Regions from separate parts of the Homo sapiens genome. Here regions 1 and 2 are each linked to region 3. Evidence: fine-mapped expression QTL. A gene starts in region 3. Each other region holds a variant in brackets. All regions are shown on one strand. Distances are from middle to middle.

What was found.
Region 1: its variant is fine-mapped to the expression of NUP50 in lymphoblastoid cells (TwinsUK, PIP 0.95).
Region 2: its variant is fine-mapped to the expression of NUP50 in fibroblasts (GTEx, PIP above 0.99).

Annotation. Positions count from the first base shown.
Region 1 is chr22:45,187,664-45,195,230 of GRCh38, forward strand. It overlaps KIAA0930, which reads right to left. Exons shown (of 10, transcript NM_001009880.2): 10 at 4,581-7,567. LOC105373064 (a long non-coding RNA gene) reads right to left here and starts at 3,949. Exons shown (of 4, transcript NR_146602.1): 1 at 3,361-3,949; 2 at 2,839-2,882; 3 at 2,254-2,537. It overlaps NUP50 (nucleoporin 50), which reads left to right. Exons shown (of 8, transcript NM_007172.4): 8 at 1-354. RefSeq lists an enhancer at 3,206-3,706. The variant A/G (reference allele first, on the strand shown) is at 4,704.
Region 2 is chr22:45,101,475-45,109,479 of GRCh38, forward strand. No RefSeq gene overlaps it. Among named protein-coding and RNA genes, the nearest start is that of NUP50-DT, 58 kb to the right of the region's middle. The variant G/A (reference allele first, on the strand shown) is at 4,069.
Region 3 is chr22:45,159,555-45,167,559 of GRCh38, forward strand. It overlaps NUP50 (nucleoporin 50), which reads left to right and starts at 4,371. Exons shown (of 8, transcript NM_007172.4): 1 at 4,371-4,742. It overlaps NUP50-DT (NUP50 divergent transcript), which reads right to left and starts at 4,227. Exons shown (of 3, transcript NR_038956.1): 1 at 4,023-4,227. RefSeq lists silencers at 154-448, 3,883-3,932, 4,703-4,932, 4,963-5,142 and an enhancer at 4,300-4,822.

The sequences.
Region 1 (7,567 bases), 28 kb after region 3:
GAATTTGAGTAGATACTGATTTGTCCCGTAGTATGGCAGATGACAGGGAGGTCTTTTCCAAGCAGGCACTCAGAACACAGGTCACCGTATGTTCTCAGCCAGTAACAATCATACTGAGGACGAAGGACTCTCCGTTTGATGCAGACACAATTGTAATGGAGATGTAAAACTTCTTAGCAATCAGATGGATAAATTGTTTGCTTTTTACTTTAAATAGGAAATTGTTTTCTAAAACTAAAATACTTGAATTGTCAGACAATATAATCTCAGCTTGTATTAGTTTTTGAATGCTCCCATCGAGGAAGTGTAACAATCCATGAAATGTGAATAAATGAAAAGTAAACAAAATCCCAATGTGTGAGTCTTATGTTCCTCTGTGATGCACTTGGCATTAATACAAGTCAGACAGACCTGAGGAAGAAGAATCAACGCAGAAGCTGCAACCGGAAACTTCCTTGAACAACAGGAAGGTCAGCTTGGAGGTGAGTGAGAGACCAGTTTATTATCAGACTCCTTGTTGGGGGCCGAGACTACTTTTAAACCATTCAGACCAAGGGTTTCTGTTGGATTAAAATCTTAACAGATTGGAATGGGAACAATTGATCCTTAATGGGCTAGTGTGCAAAGCATTGGCTAGGTGCTTTATATGTATTACCTTGGTTAGTCCTCAAAGCAAACCTTTGAGACTTATTTTTTAACCTTTCCTATGTTACTCAGCATTTATTTGGTTTATAAGGGGTATTTTCTGGTTTAAAAAAATAATATTGCAAAGATTTAAGTTATCCATCAAAGTATTTTCCTGAACCGTTAACATCTAATAGAAACTAAATGACACTAAGAGAATGTCATCTGAAGAGGAAGATTGCACCTGAGCCGCAGCAGCCCTGTTTAGATACTCAGCTGCATGGCTGGGCTAGAACCTGGGTTCTCAGAGTGGTCCTGGGACTGACACATAAGAAGTTGATGGAAATGCAAGCCCGGCCGGGCCCAGTGGCCCACGCCTGTAATCCTAACACTTTGGGAGGCCGAGGTGGGTGGATCGCTTGAGCCCAGGAGTTTGAGACCAGCCTGTGCAACTGTTGGGAAAAGGGCTTGTGGGGTGCCTGTATAAACTGGCCATAAAAATACAGGACACTAAGTTGTGGAAAGCCACAAGAGGTCTCTGAGGAGGAGAGCCTCCTAATTGCCATCATGTTCCCATGCTCAGAGTGAGACCTGCTCTCGTATCTGTAAACACTGTGTTCAAGGAGAGAGACACTCCTTTGAAACACTGGAATGCGGACAGACGTGCAGGCTCCGAGTTAAGCCCGCTCCCACCAGCTACTCTCCGATAAAGATACGCTGTTTGAGCAGCACAGAGGAGGTTCGTTGAAACCGCTGTTGCCGTAGATGATGCCTGTGACGCGCCGCCGCCCTTCCACTGTTTCGCCCCGAACATCTGCTTAAATCTAAGTGATTGGACTCAATAGTGTGGAGACCAGAGCTCTAAGCCTTTTGCAGCCTCCACATTTTGCAACTGGCCCCCTGGCTCCCACCTTCACTCTTAACCTGTCTCTTCTCAATCCTTTGTCGCCACCAGACTTCGGGTACCCTACGGGTGGTGTTGAGGCTGGTCCCCAACATGCAACATAGCAAAAACCCTGGCTGTACAAAGAATACAAAATGTAGCCAGGCATGATGGCATGCACCTGTAGTCCCAGCTACTTGGGAGGCTGAGGTGGGAGGATGGTTTGATCCCAGGAGGTGGAGGCTCCAGGGAGTGAGCAGTGATCATGCCACTGTACTCCAGCCTGGGTGACAAAGCAAGACCCTATCTCAAAAAAACAAAAAAAAATCAAACCCGGCTGGGCGAGGTAGCTCACGCCTGTAATTGCAGCACTTTGGGAGGCTGAGGTGGGAAGATTGCTGAGCCCAGAGTTAGAGACCAACCTGGGCAACACAGCAAGACCCTGTCTTTAGAAAAAAAAAAAATTTTTTTTTTTTAATTAGCTGGGCATGGTGGTGGAAGGAATCGCTTAAGCCCAGGAGATCCAGGCTGTAGTAAGCCGTGGTTGCGCCACTGTACTCCAATCTGGGTGACAGCAAGACCCTGTCCGTGCCCATCCACCCCCCCACAAAAGGCTAACCCATGGGCCCCAACTAGGCTACTGAATCAGCGCCTCAGGTTGGAGCCCATTTTTAAAAATTGAGATAGAATTCATATAAACTGCACCCCTTTAAAGTACATGATTCAGTGGCTTTTAGTATACTCACAGTGGTGCAGCCGTCATCACTGATCCAAAGTATTTTCCTCACCGGTCTTCTGGGTTTGAACGTTGGGTTAGAGCGTGCATTAGGTGATCCTGAGGCATGCTCACATTTGGGAACCGCTGGCACATGCACTCCCGATGACTCCAAAGATGGCCCGTGAAATACCCCTTGCACACGCCGGGAAGAAATGGCAGTAGTGATCAGCGTTGCCAGCAACTATGCCAGCCTTTGGACGTAACCTTGTCTCACTTCAACATCGTCGCGTCCCAGGAAGGAAAGTGGTGATTCTACTTGAGAAAACCCAGGCCCAGGGTTAAGTGTGTCTGAGGTGGTGCAGCTTGAGGTCCCAGCCCCACACACCTCTCCCCAGCGTGCCACGTTAAGTGAGATATACGTGCCCACTAAATTACTCAACTGCACTGGCTTCTGGAAGTGGCTAAAATCTTTTAAGCAAAATTGTTTATTCAGAGTAGCATAAAATTTGGCTAAAAGCCATGGTTATTTCAAAATGAGCAACCTAATTGTTTCATTAAAATCAGATTCCAAGAGGAAAGACCCCAGTCCACACAGAGGAAAGAACTCTCTAACCTGTTGGCTGATGGAGAGGCTAAGTCAGGGGCAATTCAGTGACACTGTAAGGAAAGAAAAGACAACATGATCCTTTCTTTATCCCCAGAAACAAGTATTTTCTCTTCCTCATGTAAATTTTCCAGCTGTTCTTAGCATTTTAACAATCAGGCACAAAGTACAGCATGTTACCACAGTCAACATGTCTATTTACAATGAACTGTGTTATTATATGGATTGAGTTACATTCCCCTCTCCTCCCAGTGTAAGATTCCCAAAGGTTTTCCTTTCCAGTTACCTTTTTTCCTTCTAAGCTAGGGCATGACAGTACTTCCTAAAAGCTCATCTAAGGCTAAAGGAACCGAAATAGCAGATTAGCCTTCCAAGAGGAGGCAATGAATAGGAATGAGGTTCCCGCAGGCAGCTTCCAAGATAGAGACTCTCCCCAAATTTCTATTAAACATTTTTCAGGTGACTGCTTTAAAAGGACTTCCCACTGTTCAACAAGAAGGGGGTTGACCTGGATGGCAAGGAAGTCTTCACCTGCTAGACCGCCTCCTTCCTAACCTCCATCTTCATGGGCTGCCTTTGGGGTTGTGGTCAGAAAATTCTCTTGGTCTGGTGTTTCTAAGGCAGTGGCTGTTCCCAAGAAGTGTCATTGATGGGATGTCCCTTACTGTATTCCGGAATGCTTGCGTTCCTCTCAGACCCTCTTTTCTCTGCCCCTCATTTTCCACTCTGTAACTTTCTGCGGTGTCTTAGGTCTTAACATCCATCGCTGGTAACTCACTAAGTCCATCTGACCGTGGAAAGGAAAAGCTCACAGTGTGAAAGGCGACGATGAGGCTGCTCCCACCTACGAGGGCCCTGCAGTAGCAGACTCGGAAGGATCAGCCGGAAAATGCGAGAGCCTGCTCGAGGTCCCCTCACCTGCTGAGCTGCAAGACAGACGCCTGCTGCAAACACCTCATCTTCCGTTAGATCAGCCAGCTTACCTGGAGCCTGCAAAACCTGAACTTGGGGCTCCTGGCCTCTATTCCATTTTTTCCATTTCTGTGAGGGTTAAGAGGTTCTCTGAAAAAGCCTGGGAAATTTTATAGTACAACTGAAAGGGTGTGCACTACTTTGTGGAGGCTAAAAGCTTAACTTGAAATGCATTTTTTTTTTTTTTTTTTTTTTTTTTTGAGATGGAGTCTCTGTCACCCAGGCTGGAGCGCAGTAGTATGAGCTTGGCTCACTGCAACCTCTGCCTCCTGGGTTGAAGCGATTCTCCTGCCTCAGCCTCCCAAGTAGCTGAGACTACAGGTGCACATCACCACGCCCGGTTAATTTTTGTATTTTTAGTAGAGATGGGGGTTTCACCATATGTTGGCCAGGCTGGTCTCGAACTCCTGACCTCAAGTGATCTGCCCGCCTCGGCCTCCCAAAGCACTGGGATTACAGGCGTGAGCCGTGCCAGGCCTTGAAATGCATCTTGAAATGATTTAATACTGCAAATATGGCATCTCTGGCCAAACCCATCACTGACCTGCCCACCTCTTCTCGGACTCCTCACTGGCTCACGGCAGGCAAAGCCAGCACACAGGGTGATTTTTCTCTGCCTCCAACACACTCTAGTTCAAAAAAGTAGTTTGTGTGAAAGCTCCAAAAAAAGTTTCAGGAATCACTGGGGGCAAATTAAGTTTCAATCATTAAATTATTGCTTTGCTATAATATCTGTATTTACCCTGAAATTCCCATTACAGAAAAAGATTAGAGGAAGACACAGAAAAAAAAAATTTAATATTCAACATGCAAAACAACCTTTAAAAGAAACATGAAATCATAAAGCAAAGCTAACAGCCAACCAACAAATACCGCCTAGCAATGATTTCCACTGGATGTGG[A/G]AGAGGGTTAATAAAGACGCTGTTGGTAACGCGTACAGAACTATCACTGGCAATCAGCATACTGAGCTATCCAGTGGAGGCCAGCATCGTGTTTTTGCTAAAATACATGTTGTAGAAGTCATAATTCATAGTGAAGAATCTCAACAGGTTTTCTTACAGATTTAATTACTCTCACACAAATAATTCATTTGGAAACCATAAAAGATACCTATTTACACCTAAACTGCCTGGCCTTCCAGAGCGGGGACTAAAGGGGCAGGGCGGGGAAGAAAGCGAGCGTGTCGCGGGCTCTGTGGGGTTGCAGGGTCACTGTTATTTTGATCTGCTGAGCTCAAGGACTGGAAACGGAATAAAAACGCCTACTCGCCTTAGGCAGGATAAGAAGTTGTAAACTCACCCATCAGCAGCTGCCTCCACTTCTGAGGCTCCCCCTGCGGGAGGAGCTCTGAACCCAGCCCTGAGGCCACTCGGTGTCCCGAGGAGTGCTCCAGGGCTCGGAGAAGGGGCTCAGGGGTCCTTTTGCCACTGAGGATCAAGCCAGCCAGTGAAAAAGAAAAAACAAAAGCCCCAGCAGGTGCCCATCACCCGGCTCCCAGGGGTCATCTGCAGAGTCACGTGGCACTCTGGCCACTGCTGAAGAGCTGCTCTCCCTCGAAGGGCAGTGGCTGCCCCCTCCAGAGGCTGCTTCCATTCAAGCTCAAGGGCACGTGCCTTTCCTTATCTCGTGGAGTGTCCGTCCTATCAGGTGGTTGTTTGTAAAACAAAAGTACAGTCATTCTGCTTTCTGATACAGACTAGAGCAAGAGGACAGGAAGAACCAGTGGGCTGTCAAGAGACACTTGGTTTTTGAAACAGGACATGAAAGCAAATCCCACCTAAATTCAAAAATTGAGGAAAACGTCAGTGAAACCTGTTAAGTTCGCTAAAAAGTTGGCAGATGTTTCGTATGTCTTTAAAGGATTTTGGCCAACAACTTAAAACCACCATATTAGGACATGGTCCAGGCAGTCATTAGAATATACTGGCTGCACAGGGCCTTTCCTCTGGGACATCTTTTAATGAAAAAAAAAAGTTTTACTTTGTTCTTCAAAAGTCTTCTACTAACTAGTCTATTTATGATTAAAACAGCAAAAACAGATCCTGGTTTGAGTGCAGGTACATTCTTTGGGGGAGGGCACCTCAGGAACATGCATTTATACCCTTCCTGTGACTCCGTGTAGAGGGAAGACTAACTCACAGTCCATAAGAATCCAAAAGTGAGCGGCGACTTCACTCAGCAACCCATCCTGCCTCCAAGCTGACTTGGCTATAGAGTATCTTGCGTCCTTTTGTTCTCTTCTGACTACCTGTCACTCATGTTTTAAATAATCTTCTTTTGAAATAATAAGCCTTAGCTGGCTTTGCAGGCAACTAGGCACTTCCAGCAGGACATGAGAATGTAAGATGGCCACTACCGGAACTTACAGGTGCCAAAAGAAGAAAGGGTATAAACGGAGACCACCTATCACTCATCAGAACCTAGGATCATCACATTCCTTTAAATGGAAAAGCCCACCCTACAACTTTCTTTTTAATGTTCTAAAAAGTGACACCTAGGTTTCCTCAACAGAAAGCTGTGCTTCAATCCCAAATCCCCTTGAGACCAACATGCCTTAAAGGGGGTTTGGGTTTAAAGACCAATGTATCTTTTTTTTTTTTTTTTTTTTTTTTTTTTTTTTTTTTTTTGAGACAGAGTTTCGCTCTCGTTGCCCAGGCTAGAATGCAATGGCGTGATCTCGGCTCACTGCAACCTCTGCCTACTAGGTTCAAGTGATTCTCCTTCCTCAGCCTTCCGAGTAGCTGGGATTACAGGTGCCTGCCACCATGTCCAGCTAATTTTTCTATCTTTAGTAGACATGGGGTTTCAGCATGTTAGTCAGGCTGGTCTTGAACTCCTGATCTCAGGTGATCCACCCATCTCAGCCTCCCAAAGTGCTGGGATTACAGGCGTGAGCCACTGCGCCCAGCCCCAATATGTCTTAAAGGGGGTTTGGGATTAAAGTACAGTTTTCCGCTGAGGAAACCTAAGGTCTTAAAGGGGTTTTGGGATCAAGTGTCCTGTTGAGGAAAACTAGGTGTCACCATGCATTAGTCTTCCCCGCATTACACAAAAGGCAGGTGTGTTCCCAGAAAAATTAAAGATGGTCTTACAAGAAGTACAAATGTGCCAACACCAGGACTTTGGGGACCCTGGTTCTGGCCCTGCCACTTGTTACTCTATTACTTTATTCCACATGTCATCTGTTACTTTGGAAAAACAAACCTGGGAGTAACACCTTACTGTCTGGTTCTCAAGTGGCTAAGTGGCTCTGAGCAAGTTTTAAATCCGGCATCGCAAGTACCCTTTGGAGAGGGATTTAGGGCCTGAGAAAGGCAGACTCCACCGAGTGTCTGTCCATCTGTCCGGACAGCACCATGTGGCTCAGCATGCAGGCCAGGCCGCGTGCCTGGGTTTGACTCCCATCGCCGGCCCCTGCTGTTAGTTCCGGACAGTTCCTTGGTGCCTGTGTGCTGGTTTTCTCGTCTGTAAGATGGGGTCGGACAGGCAGCTGCACATGGTAGGCGCTGTGTGTCGGCTATGAAACCACCAGCCCACCGCGTGCCCTGTTCACATGCCTTACAAATTGAGGGCTGATCTCTAAAATAGCATGATTTGTACACGTTTCTGTGACCAGCGAGCCCTTTCACACATCACTGTGACTGGTCCTCATGGTCACCCTGTGAGGGGGGCAGCATTTTTGCCATCTTACAGACGGGGAGCCCAGCTTGCTCTGAGCCATCCAGCAGTGCTGGCCAAGCCTCCGAGCTTGGCCAAATGCTGGCCC
Region 2 (8,005 bases), 58 kb before region 3:
CATCGCATGCCAGTCTTATCGTGCCTTGCTTTCTGGAATGATGAGACTCCCCTTCTCCCCTCCCCCCTCACCCACTCTGTCTCCCCCTGCCTCCCACCCTCCTACCTCCCCAAACTCTCCATGGACTGTTTAGGCCTTAACAACTCTGGAGAGCTATTAGGATCTATCAAGCGAACAATAATTTACTTCACGAAGTGATGTGTGTGATTTTCACCATTGACTCTAATCGCAACAGAAAATCATTTCAGTCGGCTGAGTGCATAATCTGTGTGTGCTGAACTTCTCTAAGCTTGGACTTACCTAAGGGAGGAAAATGGTCCCCTGGGACCCACTCAAGAGACGCGGAGTAAACAGCGTGCATTTCGTAAATGGGCTGGGGGTGTGCCAGAACCATCGCCGGGGACCCACCGCTGTCAGCCTAGAAGGCCATCGAACACTCAGAAACCATCTTCACAAATCCTTCTAGGGTGAGGTGGGGGGGTGAGGAGTCAGGGGTCGTGCACCTAACCATCAAAGACAGTGTGGATGTCCTGCTCATCTGCCACCGGGTGGCGCAAAGAGAAAAGGAGAGCAGACAGAGCAAGGAGGCACGTGTCCTTCCTCCTCCATCACATCTGCAGACTGAGCCCAAGCATCGGGAGCCATGTGGCCAGGCAGAAATGGGAAGTCATCTGTGCCCCTTGCTAGCGGACATGGTCCCAGGGACAGGTCCTGTCCTGTCCTGAGGCTGGAACTTCAGGAGTCCCAGGCCAATCATCACGCTACCAACTTGAGGAGCTTGAGATTTTCTAGTTTAGAAAGCAGGTACACAATTGTACATAGAGCACCAGCGTACCCAGGTATAAAGAAAGAAATATGCCAACCTGTTGGCCGTGGCTACCTTTCAGAGACTGGATTATGAGTTTTAGTATTTTCTAAAATTTTCTACAATGAATATGCAAGTAATAATAATAATATAAGATCTTACAAAGAAAAAAGTCTCAAGATTCCACTCTGACCATGTGTCCAAGTTCTAGCAACAAAATTAATGCCTAGGGAATGCCATGGCCAAGTCCCATCAGGACAGGGACTTACTTCACAACATCAAGAGATTTTAGTAAAAAGTGCAGGGGCCAGGGACAGTGGCTGTAATTCTGATGCTTTGAGAGGCCAAGGCAGGAGGATCGCTTGAGCCCAGGAGTTCAAGAACAGCCTGGGCAACATAGTGAGATCCCTGTCTCTACAAAAAAAAAAAATTGTTTTAGATTAGCTGGGAATGGTGGCATGCACCTGTAGTCTTAGCTACTCAGGAGGCTGAGGTGGGAAGATAGCTCGAGCCCAGGAGGTCGAGACTGCAGTGAGCTGAGATTGCACCACTGCACCCCAGCCTGAGCAACAGAGCAAGACTCTATCTCAAAAAAGATGGGGGTTGGGGAGCAACAGAGCAAGACTCTATCTCAAAAAAGATGCAGGAAAAAGAGCACAGAGTGGAGAAGCAGAAGAGATTCTTAAGTTCTTGTCCTATAGGTAAGAGCTAAAACAAGTCACTTGCTGACCTAGAGTCTCAATATTCATGTCCCTTGACTGCAGGCAAAAGCTGGCCTCACCTCCTATGATTAATTGACACTTGTTGCTTCTCCCTGCTCGGGTTCCTTCCCCTTTCCTTTGCTGCCTGCTGCTGTCCTGCTCTGTGTAATTCGGCGTGGATGTCCCTGCTTCCCCCAGGTCAGGCAGGCTCCTGAGCAGCCCCCAAAGCACAGATGTAGTGCCCGATGGGGTGGGGAGGGGATGGCAGCCTGGCAGAGCTGAACACTTGGGGAAAGGGAATTTCTCTCCTTTGGGGCACTCAAGCACCGAGGGTCATGGAAGCCGGGAGCTGCCATGTTGCACAGAGTAAGTCTGTCTGAGAATGAAGCCAGCTAATGAGAAAACAGAGCAAAGAGATGGAGAAACTGAGGCCTGGGGATGTCACTTGAGCCATGACATCAGCATAGCCAAAGCCAGCCCCAGCCTCTGAAAAAAAAAAAAAAAATTTGGCTGGGCGAGGTGGCTCACACCTGCAATCCCAAAGTGCTGGCCTTGACTAAGGCCAAGGCAGTCGGCTCACCTGAGGTCAGGAGTTCGAGACCACCCAGGCCAACATGGTGAAACCCTGTCTCTCTACTAAAAAAAAAAAAAAAATACAAAAGTTAGCCAGGCGTGGTGGCAGGTGCCTGTAATCTCAGCTACTCAGGAGGCTGACGCAGCAGAATCGCTTGAACCCGGGAGGTGGAGGCTGCAGTGAGCCAAGAGCACCACTGCACTCCAGTCTGGGTGACAGAGCGGAACTCCGTCGCAAAAAAAAAAAAAAAAAAAAAAAATTCCCAATTCCGATTCTGCTGTAAAGCCCCAGCCCCTTTCAGTTACCATTTACTGAGTGATAACTTTCCTCCTATTTCAGACCCAGCGTGGGTGGGATTTCTGCCCCCTTGCAACGGAAGCCTTCTGGGGCTGTGTAGGGCCGGCTCTGCCTGGAAGTGCAGATGCCGGAAGCCTCAACCAGAGGGAGCCAGCAGTGGCCTGCCAGCCGCATGCCAGCCCCAGTGGGCTCTGTTGCCTCCCATAGGATTAAACATTTGAGCCCATACTTTAATATCTGAATTTCATCTAAAACTCTAAAGAGTTTCAGTTTCTCTGAAAAAAAAAATCGGAAGATCTGGCAACACTGGGTCTAGGTCCTACGTCCTACCTAGAACAATGAGCAGGGGCTACACAGGGGCTGCCACCTTGGCTTGGAGCCTTTCATTCTCTGTCAGTTCCCTGCAACTCCCTATTTTCTCTCCAACGCTGAGGCTGGGTTTCAGCTGGCATTTGTAAAATTTTGGGGGGCTTGTATTTTTATAGGAGAAAATTTTTTCTTTTTGTCTACACCTCTGTCAACAATGGCATGGTGAGATGTAGGACTAGTGGCCCCAGTGGATCAGGCCACCTGGGTCCCTCTGTGGCCCTGCCCATGTGGACACTGGCCTGAGCCACGTGACTTGCTTTAGCCAGAGGTCCAGCAGCGCGTTAAACACACACACGCACTCATGCATGCATGCACTCACACACACATGCACTCACGCACGCACATGCGCGCGCACACACACACACACACACATGCACACCACACACGCTTGATGAACACTCTGTCCTCTTTGAACCCAGAATTTGGGGTCAAGATGAGAGACCATGTGGAGAGGGACTTTAGAGAGGAAGGGAGTGCTCAAAGAATAATAAGAACGCGTCAAAAACCAAGAAGCTGCTTTGGAAAGGTGACCACTGGCCAAATCTAGGACAATCTGAACATAAAAATAAATTATAGTCACAAAAAATTATACTCCATTGAATATAACAGGAAACCAGGAATCCATACAGATATAAAAAATAAATGAATGCACTGAGAATTTGGTGAGGAATGGAGATATTTGCAGAATTTCAAAGTACCTACCCACAAAATGGCAGAGAACATGAAAAAAGAATGACTTTGGCCGGGCATGGTGGCTTACGCCTATAATTTCAGCACTTTGGGAGGCCGAGGTGGGTGGATCACTTGAGGTCAGGAGTTCGAGACCAGCCAGGCCAACATGGTAAAAAGCCCATCTCTAATAAAAATTATCCAGGTGTGGTGGCACACGCCTGTAATCCTAGCTACAGGGGAGGCTGAGCCACAAGAATCACTTGAACCTGGGGGGCAGAGGTTGCAGTGAGTCTAGATCGTGCCACTGTACTCTAGTCTAGGCGACAGAGCCAGACTCCGTCTCAAAAAAAAAAAAAAAAAAAAAAAAGGAATGACTCTATAAGAGAGATGCTGGCAGACACCACTGTTGTCAAGTGATCAAAGTAAACATCAAGTGACAAATCGAAACCAAGCCCCACCCTATGGGAGGCAGTGAGAGAAACAAGGTATCCATTTGCGACAGTGCTGCCAGACTGCATAGTTGCTTGAGTAGGAGGAAGAGCAAACAAAGGGAATTGAGGAGAGGAAAAGAAAACGAATCGTTCGAAAGTGTTATCCTCCCAGGAGAACTGGAGATGTGTGCACCAGAACACCCGAACAGGGATGGTCAC[G/A]GGAGCGTTACTCATAAGAGCCCAAGAGTCCAAATGTCAGCATCCAGCAGCTCAGCAGTGGACAGACAAGTTGTGGTCTAGCCACACGTTGGAATGTTATTTGGCAATAAAAAGGAATGAGGTACTAATACACGCCACACCATGGATGAATCATGAACACAAGATGCTAAGTGGAAGGAGCCAGTCACAGAAGACCATTTATACAAAATGTCCCAAATAGGCAAATCCGAAGAGATGAAAAGTAGATTTGTGTTTGCTTGGGGCTGGAGTGGAGGCAGGAGGAGGGGTGACTGTCAATGGGCGTGAAGTTTCTTTGGGGGCTGAGGAAAACGTTCAGATGGGGGTGATAACTATAGAACCCTGAATACACGAAAATGGAACTGTATCTGTAAAACTGTATACACTGGATTGTATGTATAAAAGGGTGAGTGTTATGGTATGTGAATTATCGCTCAATAAAGTTGTTATTTAAAATAGTAAAAACAAATTGTAGGTAGATTTAAAAGTTGAACTAGTAAAGTACTAGAAGGAAAACAAGCAGAACTTATCCTACGCGAAGGGTTGGACCAAGAGGATGGATGTGATCAGATGTTGTTCTGTATATTTTATTTGAGAGATAACATAGACGGTGAGGAAGCAAAAGGACTGGGAGGCGGGAGGCAGGACCGCTGCAGTAACCCGGGCAAGAAACAATGAGGGTCTGAAGCAAGGGGTAGCAGTGGGCCCTAAGAGGGAAGGAGAGAGACGAGAGGCATTTGGGAGCGAGAACTGAAGGGCCCTGGTGTTGAATGGGTGATCACAGGAGAAGAAAGACCTCCTTCCTTCCCATTCTTCCCATTCTTCCAACGCAGAGTAAGTGCCACTTCCTCGGAAGCCTCCCTGACTCCAAAGCTCGGTGGGGTTCCCCTCCAGGGTCCCCCCACCTCCATATCAGAGCACTGATCACAGGGACTGGCCATGGTCTCTACTGCCCTCTGGACAGCTGGGCAGCAGGACCTGGGTCCTGTTCACCATCAACCCCAGCACCCGTCAGCATTCAGCATGCTATGAATGTTCAATTAGTATTTGCTGAGCAAAAATGCGAATGGATGAACCAGCCTGTGATACTTGCCAGGTTTTGGCTTCTGAATTCATTCACTATGTTGGCCATTCTACCATGAATGTACTCCAGCTTACCCCTGAGACATGAAGGCAGCTGGGGTTAATGTGGAGCCTGCAGCCCATGCCTTCTGCTCCTGGGTCTGTGCTCCATGTGAGGTTAGAGGATGCCAAGGACTGAATGTGTGTGCCCCCCTCTAATTCCTCTGTTGAAGCCCTAATCCTCAATGTGATGGTATTAGGGGTGGGGTCTTTGGGAGATGATTAGGCCACGAGGGTGGAACCCTCATGAGTGGAATAGCGTCCTTAGAAAAAAGACTCCAGGGAGTTATCCAGCTCTTTCCACCCCATGAGGACACAGCCAGAAGACGGCCATCTGCAAACCAGGAAGGGAGCCCTCCCCAGATGCCAAATCTGCCAGCACCCTGCTCTTGGATTTCCCAGGCTTGAGAACTGCGAGAAATAAATGTCAGTTGTTGAAGCCACCCAGTCTGTGGTATTTTTGTCGTAACAGCCTGAGCTGATGGAGCCAGGGAGGCTGCATGGTCATGAGCATGCTGGAGGCTAGTAGGGAGCAAAGGAAGGGAAGACTGGGGTGGGTGTCAACCCCAGGTAGCCTATGTTTATCCCCGGCCACTGCTCCTCAACTTCATCCTGGAAACCCAGCTGTCACCTGTCAGGAGAGGCTGCTCTGTCTCCTCAGAGCATAGGGCTGCAGCCAAGGTGGCTCAGGGGTCCTCCTCTCCAGTTCCATCCCAGATGACTCAGATGCCATGGGCAAGTGTCCCACCTCCAAGCTCTTATGGCTGTAGGGCAGGGGCTGAGCTGGAAATGTCAGCAACACCAGGAAGAACATTCAGAATATCTGCCCCATGTGTCAACTGCTCACCACGTCCACGGTCCACTCCCGGGTCCAGGCCACCACCATATCTTGCCTGGATTGCTCTTAGGACCTCCTGACCCTGTGGCAGCTTCCAGTCTCACCCACGACAGCCGCCCCGTTTCCCGCACAGCGGCCTGCAATCTTTTAAAGACAAACATCATACCTTGACGTTCTCCTTCCTTACATTCTCCAGGGCCCCCTGGACAACTGCTCTCAGGATAAAATCAAAACCCTTCACCAGCGCATGAGGGTCTGCATGATCTGGCGCCCACATCTCCTTCCCCTCTCTCCCTCACTCACCAGGTTGCAGCCATGCTGGCCTCCTTTTCACCAAAGCTGCCAAGCCCTTTCCCACCCCAGGGCCTTTGCACCTGCTGTTAGAAGCACTCGAAGCTCGGCTGGGTGCGGTGGCTCATGCCTGTAATCCTAGTGCTTTGAGAGGCCAAGATGGGAGGATTGCTTTAGGACAGGAGTTTGAGACCAGCCTGGTCAACATAGCAAGACCCAATGTCTATTTTTTTATTATATATTTAAAATTTTTCTTAAAAAGAAGCACTCTATCTGCCCACTCCACCCGTCCACACCACATAACCCCCTCCATCTGCCGATCCCTGCTTGCTCCATCACACCACTCCCTCCATTCCTTCCCACATAGCAGCTTCCTCCACAGTGGTTGTTTCTACTTGTGCGTCGTTGCATCACTCCCAACCAGAAGCAAATCTGCATGAGCATGGGCACCTGAGCACGGGCACCTGTTCTGTCTTGTCCCCACCATTTCACCAGGGTCCAAGGCAGTGCCCAAGAAACAGTCCAAGCTCAATAAACACTCGTCAGGTGAATGAAAGAACCGAGAGCTGATCATATTTTATTACCTTTGTGATGCTTATCATCGTCTGACATGAGCTTGTTATGATTGATGACTGTGGTTCTCCTGTGATGAGAATGGAAACTTCAGGAGGCCAGAAACCTCATCTCCATTCCTGTTGTACCTCTGGCACCCAAAGCAGTAGCAGGCACAGAGTAGACCATTAACAAATAGTTGCTAGTTGTTGAGTGACTGTTGGTGAAATTTTATCATTTTATCAAATTCTTAAAAATATACATTTTTAAAAGCTGGGATACTATTCAAAAATCATCTCAGCAGCCTGGGTGTGATGGCTCATGCCTGTAATCCCAGCACTTTGGGAGGCGGAGGTGGGAGGATCACTTGAGGCCAGGAGTTCAAGACCAGTCTGGGCACTATAGAAAGACCCTATCTCTAAAAATTTTTTTTAATTAGCTGGGTGTGGTGGGCACCTGTAGTCCCAGCTACTCCAGAGGCTGAGGTGGGAGGAGCGCTTGGGCCCAGGAGGTCAAGAATGCAGTGAGCCATGAACACACCACTGCACTCCAGCCTGGGCAACAGAGCAAGATTCTGTCTCAAAAAAAAAAAAGGTCTCATCATATATTTTTTCTAGCTTGATCACATATGCACAAACACGTATCATTCTTAGTTCTTGTTAGAATTCTCCATTAACCGGCACTATGGATTTTAACAAGTTACTTAATCCATCCAGGCTAAAGGCATCATCTACAACATGAGATTATTCTAATACTTTATTTCTACGACTTCCTCCAGCTCTAATCTCCTATTATTCAATGTATTCTGCTTCATAGTACAAAGGGTTTAAGCCATACCCCAGTCCCAATGTACTGACTTCAGTTTCTGGGCATTCCTTACCCGTGGGTGGGTGTGGGTGCTTCCTGGGATACTTGATGGTATCCCATTAGTGTCAAGACCACATGGACATTCCCATGCAGAAATATTGGTGAAAGTCCTACAGCTGATCCAAGAGCCAGAAGCTCCGCAGGTCCCTGAGGAAGGAAGATAGAGACTCCCTCATGCTGTGCCACTCTGGAAATTCATTGGTCCAGATCAGTATCTGCTTTTTTTTTTTTTTTTTTTGAGATGGAGTT
Region 3 (8,005 bases):
GCATTAGAAAAAAATGAAAATCTTTTGAGCTGTTTAGGGGAGAAAGCTCCAAGGAACTTAAAAACAAGTGATACTGTCTTATTTAACAGTCCATTTACTCAGCCCCATACTGTGTGCTTTACCTAAGTGTTCACACTTAATCTGTACAACCAAATGAAGGTACATAATACACCCTCGCTTTACAGATGAGGAAACTTGAGCTCAGAGCTCAGTTTGTCCAAGGCTGCCAAGCTGGTAAGTGATACGGCCAGGAGATTAACTCCAAAGCCCCACTGCCAGGCAGATAACAGAACATTTCCTGTTTTCATTCCTTAACATTAGGAGCAAAGTGTAGTTCTGTAGGCTTCCTGTTGGGTGTTTTCTGGTAAATCGTAACAGGAATGACTCCAGGTCGAGGTTTAAGCCTACCTAAAATGAAGGCCAGAACACAGCTAGAACACAGCAATATTATCTTGCCATTTTCTTTGCTAGGTTAAACTGGGCTTGAATGATCTGAGACATTTATGACCTGATCACTGTGGCAAAACTGATACAAAGCTGGCTCCTGGCATGGACCTCTAACAGCAGAAAGAAAGGCAGGATCACATCACCATGGACTCATTTGGAATCAGGTAAAGTAGGTAAACTGACATGTCTGGGTATTTATTTACTGAACATGATGACAATGACCCAGCCTAACAACCATCACAGTCCTTTGGCTCTCAGGGGTTAAGCAAATTGAAAGGGATTTTTGAAAGGCAGAGTATAGGAAAAAAGGGCTAACACCTTTGGAGGAGTATTTCATAACATGAGACTTGAGCTTCATTAAAAGGAAGTAGCCAAATTCAATGGAGGTAGATGTCTGCGTGCAAAGTGCCTCCATTCTTCTGAGTTATAGCCAGTTTAAAGTTGTCATTTTAGCCAGCAATGAAATCCATCCAGTAAGGCGCAAGACAGCTACAGTGCTATCATATACATAAATCTTTTTTATTTGCATTAGAAAGGCATCAGTTATTTCAATGCTACAATGTGTAATTAAGTAAATGTGTTAATCATTTGGCTTACCCTTACAATACTGTATTATTCCAAGAATGAAAGTTCTGATTTTAACTAAGCCACAATTCAATGTTGAGTACAAGAAAGTCTACCTCTACCTAAGCTGCCTCTATCCCTGACATGGTCACAACCTAGAGATCAAGCAGCCAGTTTGTCAGAGGCATTGGAACCAGAGCAATTCCATCTTGAAGAGGCAGTAGGTAAAATCAGGCAGAGACCTGTTGGCTGCATTCTTAGTAGTCACAAGATGTTTAGGGTTACAGGAACAGATTAATAACGTTCACTAAACAAACCCAGGACTTAACAGACCCAGGAAACATTTTGATGTCGCTGTATCTGTTAGTCCAAACTGCACCATTTTCTTTCTTTCTTTTTTTTTTTTTTTTGAGATGGAGTCTCGCTCTGTTGCCCAGGCGGGAGTGCAGTGGGGCAATCTCAGCTCACTGCAAGCTCCGCCTCCTGGGTTCACGCCATTCTCCTGCCTCAGCCTCCTGAGTAGCTGGGACTACAGGCACCCGCTACCACGCCCGGCTAATTTTTTGTATTTTTAGTAGAGATAGGGTTTCACCATGTTGGCCAGGATGGTCTCGATCTCTTGACCTTGTGATCCACCCGCCTCAGCCTCCCAAAGTGCTGGGATTACAGGCGTGAGCCACCACGCCCTGCCAAACTGCACCATTTTCTAAGCCCCCCGCCATTTCGCAGACACTGGTCAAAGCGAAACATTCCACGGGGGTTCAGGCCGTGAGAAATTTCCTGCCCAACTTTCTTACCAAACCCTGTTGGGTAAAGGCCCAATTGAAGGAACATCCCTATCAAACCTTGCTCAGCAAAGGTGCAAGGAACATCACTGTCACTTTCTGAGGGAACAAGGGCCAAACTGCCTGATCATAGAACGTTTTATGGATAGATATACTGGTAAGTATATTCACATGGCAAGCCATACTGCCCATTCCCCTCCTGCCCTATAAGTACCCCAGCCTGTAAGCAGCAGTGGGCTCTGGCATTAAGCTGATCCCCCATCTCTGTAGGTTTTTGCCATATACCTGTGTTGCTGTTGAGCTGCCCTTTGTTTTTTTTTTTTTTTTTTTTTTTTTTTGAGACGCAGTCTCACTGTATTACCCAGCCTGGAGTGCAATGGCGTGATTTTGGCTCGCTGCAACCTCTGCCTCGCGGGTTCAAGTGATTCTCCTGCTTCAGCCTCCCAAGTAGCTGAGATTACAGGCATGTGCCACCACGCCCCGCTAATTTTTGTATTTTTAGTAGAGATGAGGTTTCACCATGTTGGTCGGGCTGGTCTCCCACTCCTGACCTCAGGTGATGCACCCGCCTCGGCCTCCCAAAGTGCTGGGATTACAGGCGTGAGCCACAGCGCCCGACCTGTGTGTCATTCTTTAACTCTCGTCTTCCCTTCAAAACCTAACAATATCTTAAGATCAAAAGCATTCTTCATTTAGGTTTCGCTTTAAAGATAATATAGATCTTTGCCAAAGTCAGTAAACAAAGATGAACAATCCTTGTGTCAGGCCTCTGAGCCCAAGCCAAGCCATCGCATCCCCTGTGACTTGTACGTATACGCCCAGATGGCCTGAAGTAACTGAAGAATCACAAAAGAAGTGAAAAGGCCCTGCCCCACCTTAACTGATGACATTCCACCATCGTGATTTGTTCCTGCCCAACCTTAACTAAGTGATTAACCCTGTGAATTTCCTTCTCCTGGCTCAGAAGCTCCCCCACTGAGCACCTTGTGACCCCCCACCCCTGCCCACCAGAGAACAACCCCCTTTGACTGTAATTTTCCATTACCTTCCCAAATCCTATAAAACGGCCCCACCCCTATCTCCCTTCGCTGACTGTCTTTTTGGACTCAGCCCGCCTGCACCCAGGTGAAATAAACAGCCATGTTGCTCACACAAATCCTGTTTGGTGGTCTCTTCACACGGACGCGCATGAAACCTTGGTCGTGGGCCCTCGTGGTAGAGCCCATGTCCCCCAAGATTTCTTTGGCTGTGTTACCTTAGATTTGAACAAGCACTGTACCTAAGGCGGGCGCCTTCCTCCTCCCGCTTTCAGGAATGCCCTGCTCTGCCATTCTTTTGCTTTCTCACTTCTCTAATACACTTGCTTTCACTTTAGTCCGTGGACTCGCCCCGAATTCTTTCCTACGCGACATCCAAGAAGCCTCTCGCTGGGTCTGAGTGGAGACCTCTTTCTGGTAATAAACGGACTAGGGAGATTCGACTTTGAAGGTGAAAACAAAAACCACCATCCAGTTTATAAGAAGGCGCTCGAGGCCGGGAACGGTGGCTCAGGCCTGTAATCCCAGCACTTTGGGAGGCTGAGGTGGTGGGGCGGGGGGAGGGAATCACCTGAGGTCACGAGTTCGAGACCAGCCTGACCAATATGGTGAAAACCCGTCTCTACTAAAAATATAAACATTAGCCGGGCGTGGTGGCGCACGACTGTAATCCCAACTACTCGGGAGGCTGAGGCAGGAGAATCGCTTGAATCCGGGAGGCAGAGGTTGCAGTAGGCCAAGATCGTGCCACTTCACTCCAGCCTGGGCGAACAAGTTAAACTCTCCATCTCAAAAAAAAAAAAAAAAAAAGGGCGGCACTGGAAACAGCTGGGAGTGACAGGGCCAGGGATGAGGGATCGCAAGCTGCTGGTGAGAAAGGAGCTCAGAGGCTGCCTGGCCTACGGGCCAGGAGACCTCAGCGCAAAAAGCGCAGGACTCGTTCCCCTGCTCTACAGCTGAGTGCCCAGGACGGATCTCACTGGCTGAAAAAAACAGAAGAGAAGGCACCCAATGCAAAATCAAATGTCAGCGAACGAGGGGTCCTTTAACAGGCGGCCCACACGGCCCCTCCTGGCGCCGAGACCCAGCCCCTCCGGGCCACCCCGGCCAGGTACGACCAGCAGGGTCACCTGCGCGCGTCCCCCGAGACGGGGCCTCCTGATGTGAAGCGACCCCAGTGGCACCTCACACGATTCCCGAGGGTTGCGGGCGGCCTCTCCTCAGCCCTGCAGCTCCCACACGCGGACACCGCGGGCCTCGGCCATGTCCACTGACCGACCTTCCTCGCCGGAACTCCTCGCGCATCGCCGGCCCCTCAGCGGCGACTAGCGCGCGAACATCCTGGAAGACGCGTTGCCGGCCCCACGTGAGCCGACGCCCCAAAGCGCGGCTGCTGGCGCCGGCTACGAGATCAAGGTCGGCGCGTGCGCGCTTGCGCGAGACCGGCATTCTCAGCCCCGCGCCGGTTTCCAGGGAGCTGGGCGCATGCGCCGCGTAAGGGGCCCGGCCGGCGGAAGGAGGTGCTACTGCCGGAAGCGCCGGCGCGCTTGCGCAGTAGCTGAACGCGGGCGTTTCTTTCCTCCCTTTTTTTCGAATTGGTTTTGGGGGTAGATTCGAGTTACAAAATGGCCGCCCGGAGCGTGTTCGGCGCGGTTCCCCCAGCTGTCTCTGGCTGAACCGGCGCTCTCGCCTCCCTGCCGAACACAGCGTGAGGAGCCCCCCCAGGGATATGGTGTTTGAGTCTCTGGGCTTGCCGAGCACTAAGTCCTCTGAGTTCCGCAGCGCAGCACCGGAAGCGGCCGAGCGCGCTCAGCCCGGCGACCCCTGCGGGCTCCAGACCCCTGCGCCGCTGCGCCCCGGGTTTCGCCGCAACCAAGACCCAGCGAGTGCAGCGGCGGCCGCCGAGGAGGTGAGGAGCGGCGGCGGGCGCGGGAGGAGAAGAGGCTGAGGGCGGGAGCCTGGTGCTGAGAGCCCAGGGCCGGGAGGGCGGGAGCGGGCTCGGGCCTGGGAGGGGAGTGCGAGTGCAGGGCTGGGGACTGGACCCTGGGGAGGGAGGTGCGGGTTCAGCGCCGGGGGACGGGCCCCTGGGGAGGGGTGCGGGGCCGGGGGACCAGACCCTGGGGAGGGGCTTAAGGGGCTGGAGGACGGGACCCTGGGAAGTGGGGTACAGGGCTAGAGGTCGGGACTCTAGGGAGGGAGCCTGGGTCGGGCGCACGGGCCGGGCGGGGCGCGCGGTGGGGGAGCGACGGGTGGAGGGTGGGGTGGGATGACAGCGGCGACGCAGCCCCGGCTGTTTTTGAAGCGGGGCCCGGGCCCCACCGGGCTGCGGCGTCCGACTCGAGTGAGACTCTCCCCTGCGGCCCCGCCGGAGGTAGGGGGCTGGCAGGGCTGTCCTGGCGTGGTCTTCTCCGTTTCCTTCCTAGCGATTCCTCTCGAGCTTCCTCTCCCCCTGGCCGCCCCTCGTCTCTCTTCTCTTGGGCGCATTACCTCTCTGGCCTGTCTTACTGCGTTCCCGGGTTATTCATCACCCATTTGCTCGGTTCCATTAAGAACCAGCTTGGAGATTAGGTATTTCTGTCTCCTTACTTGGCCCCCTTGTTGTTTTCCTCCAACAAGGCACTTCACTATTAAGTGTAGCCAAATCTGTGTTTTCGTTTTAAGGTGATGTTGACAAGTTGAGCTTTCCAAGGGCAGAGCTACACCAGATGCCAGAGACCACATAACTATATCAGGCACAAATAATGTTTTTTTCCAGTTTACCTAGACTTTCAGTCTCCCACCACGTTGCTTCATACCTAGAAATCATGTCTAATTTGGTTTTTTACCCACAAACGCAAACGTTTTTTAAATTCCCTTTTATTGATTGTTTGATTGAGACTGGGTCTTGCTTTGTCACCAGGCCTCAGTGTAGTGGTAGCTCACTGTGTAGCCTGAAGCTCCTGGGCTCAAGTGATTCTCCTGCCTCAGCTTTCCAAGTAGCTGGGACCACAGGCGTGCGCCACTACGCTCGGCTAATTTTTTATTTCTATTCATCTAATCTATGTCCATCTTTATTTTCGTAGAGACCAAGTTGGTTTCCAACTCCTGGCTTCAAGAGATCCTTCCGCCTCCCTTAAGTTCTTCATAACAGTAGCTAGACATAAGACTCCAGGTGCCAGGCCTTGTTCTGAATATTTTACAGAGGGTTTTTTCTCCCCCCCACTTCTAGCATAAAAGTAAAATGTATTGTCTGAAGTGTCATGCTTTGAAATAAAATAGGGATTTGGTAAAATATTTGTAAAAATCTGGTTTGTAATCCAAGTTATTCTTCTTCCATGCTACAACTTTTACGTTTTGGAGGGAAAATGATAGTTTATAGCCTTTGCTTCTAATAAAACTTGTTTCTTTAATAATTTATTAAGCCCTTCCTCTGCTCCAGGCACTGTTCTAAGCCAGTCTTTGTTTATCTTAACTTTCTTAATACTTCCTGTTCCACAGATGAAGAAACTGAGGCACAAAAATTAAATATAACTTGCCCAAGTTCTCACAGCTAGAAAATGGCAAAACTGGGATGCCAGCATCTTTTAGTATTTTTTGAAATACTTTATGCTCACTGGGGAAATACTTCCCCAGCTCACTGATCTAATGACAGACAGGACACCTGCTGTTTGAGCTGGGCACTGTTGGGGCATTTGGAGTATATCTGTAAACAAAACAAAGATCCCTGCGTTTTGGTTATATACTGATTTGGTGAGTATGTTAGGACGTGGAAGCCCCTACATTTATTTAGACTATTTTACTGCGTCACCTGTCTCTTCATTGTGGGTATGAGTTAGAAGTTACAATTTTACTATTACAGTTTTTGTGTATTCAGCTCCATCCCTTTTTTCTCCACAGCTAATTTTTTTTTCTTTTTCTTTTTTTTTTTTTTTTTTTTTTGAGATGGAGTCTTGCTCTGTCACATAGGCTGGAGTGCATTGGCGCGATCTCAGCTCACTGCAACCTCCACCTCCTGGGTTCAAGAGATTCTCCTGCCTCAGCCTCCGGAGTAGCTGGGATTACAGGTGCCACCACCACGCCCAGCTAATTTTTTTATTTTTAGTAGAGACGGGGTTTCACCATGTTGGCCAGGCTGGTCTCAAACTCCTGACCTCAAGTGATCTGCCCACCTTGGCCTCCCAAAGTGCTGGGATTACAGGCGTGAGGCACTTCGCTGGCCCCACAGTTAATCTTAAATAGCAAACGTGACCGTTGGTGACTTCTTACTTCTCCAACCCTCTGGTGGAGACATTAGTTAATGAGTAGGAAAATTGCCAAAAAGAATCCGTACAGAGACCTGGTTTCTGCACAGTAAAGAATTATGTCTATTCCTGTATTTGTTTTTGTTTGTATGACAAAGATTAATGGCAAAACTTAACCAAGTGTTTTTGGGTGGACATTAAAAAGAGAGGGTTCCCAGCGAATGGAAAGTGTATTTATTTCTCATCCTTTATATTTTAGAATCTTGGACTTTAATATCATTTGTAATCAGAAAAATAGCATAAACTTACAAAATTTAAAAATCACTAAAATGTATTAAAAGCTGACAGCCCGTATGTAATTACTCCACTGGCCATCAAATTGTAGAGGCCTTTGGAATACCAGCATTTGCATTTTACTTTTAGATACTAAAGAGTGATATGTCACCTCATATCTTAGCGACCACTTTGTGGGGTTGTAATACACTCTGTATTACACAATACACCAGAATAAGGAAGCTTACTCTGGTGTATTGTGGTGTTGAGAGCAAACAAGAGTGGGGAGAGTATCACGAAGGAGTTCAGGCAGGTTTAACAAGACCTGGCAGGTCCCCAAAACTAATCAGTAAGTTTTTGGGCGAGGTGGGTAGCAGGGGAAATGGAAAGGTTTTTTGTCCAGCTGGAGAGTTAGTGAAGAAGGCAGCACAACACTCATAGCGGAGCTCTGGGTTGTGGGTTTTCTTTGTTTTGTTGTTATGATATTAAGATCAGAAAACAAATCGTAAATTTTAAGGGATGGACAGGAGCACCCTCTTTGGTTAGGTGCCGGAATCCACTGCAGAGTTCACGCCGTTCCCCAACTCCTGCCCCTTCCACTAATGCCATCGTATTGAAGAGTTAAGCCAATGATTTGTTTTTGAAAGGTTATAAGTTCCCAGAATACTAACACACCCAT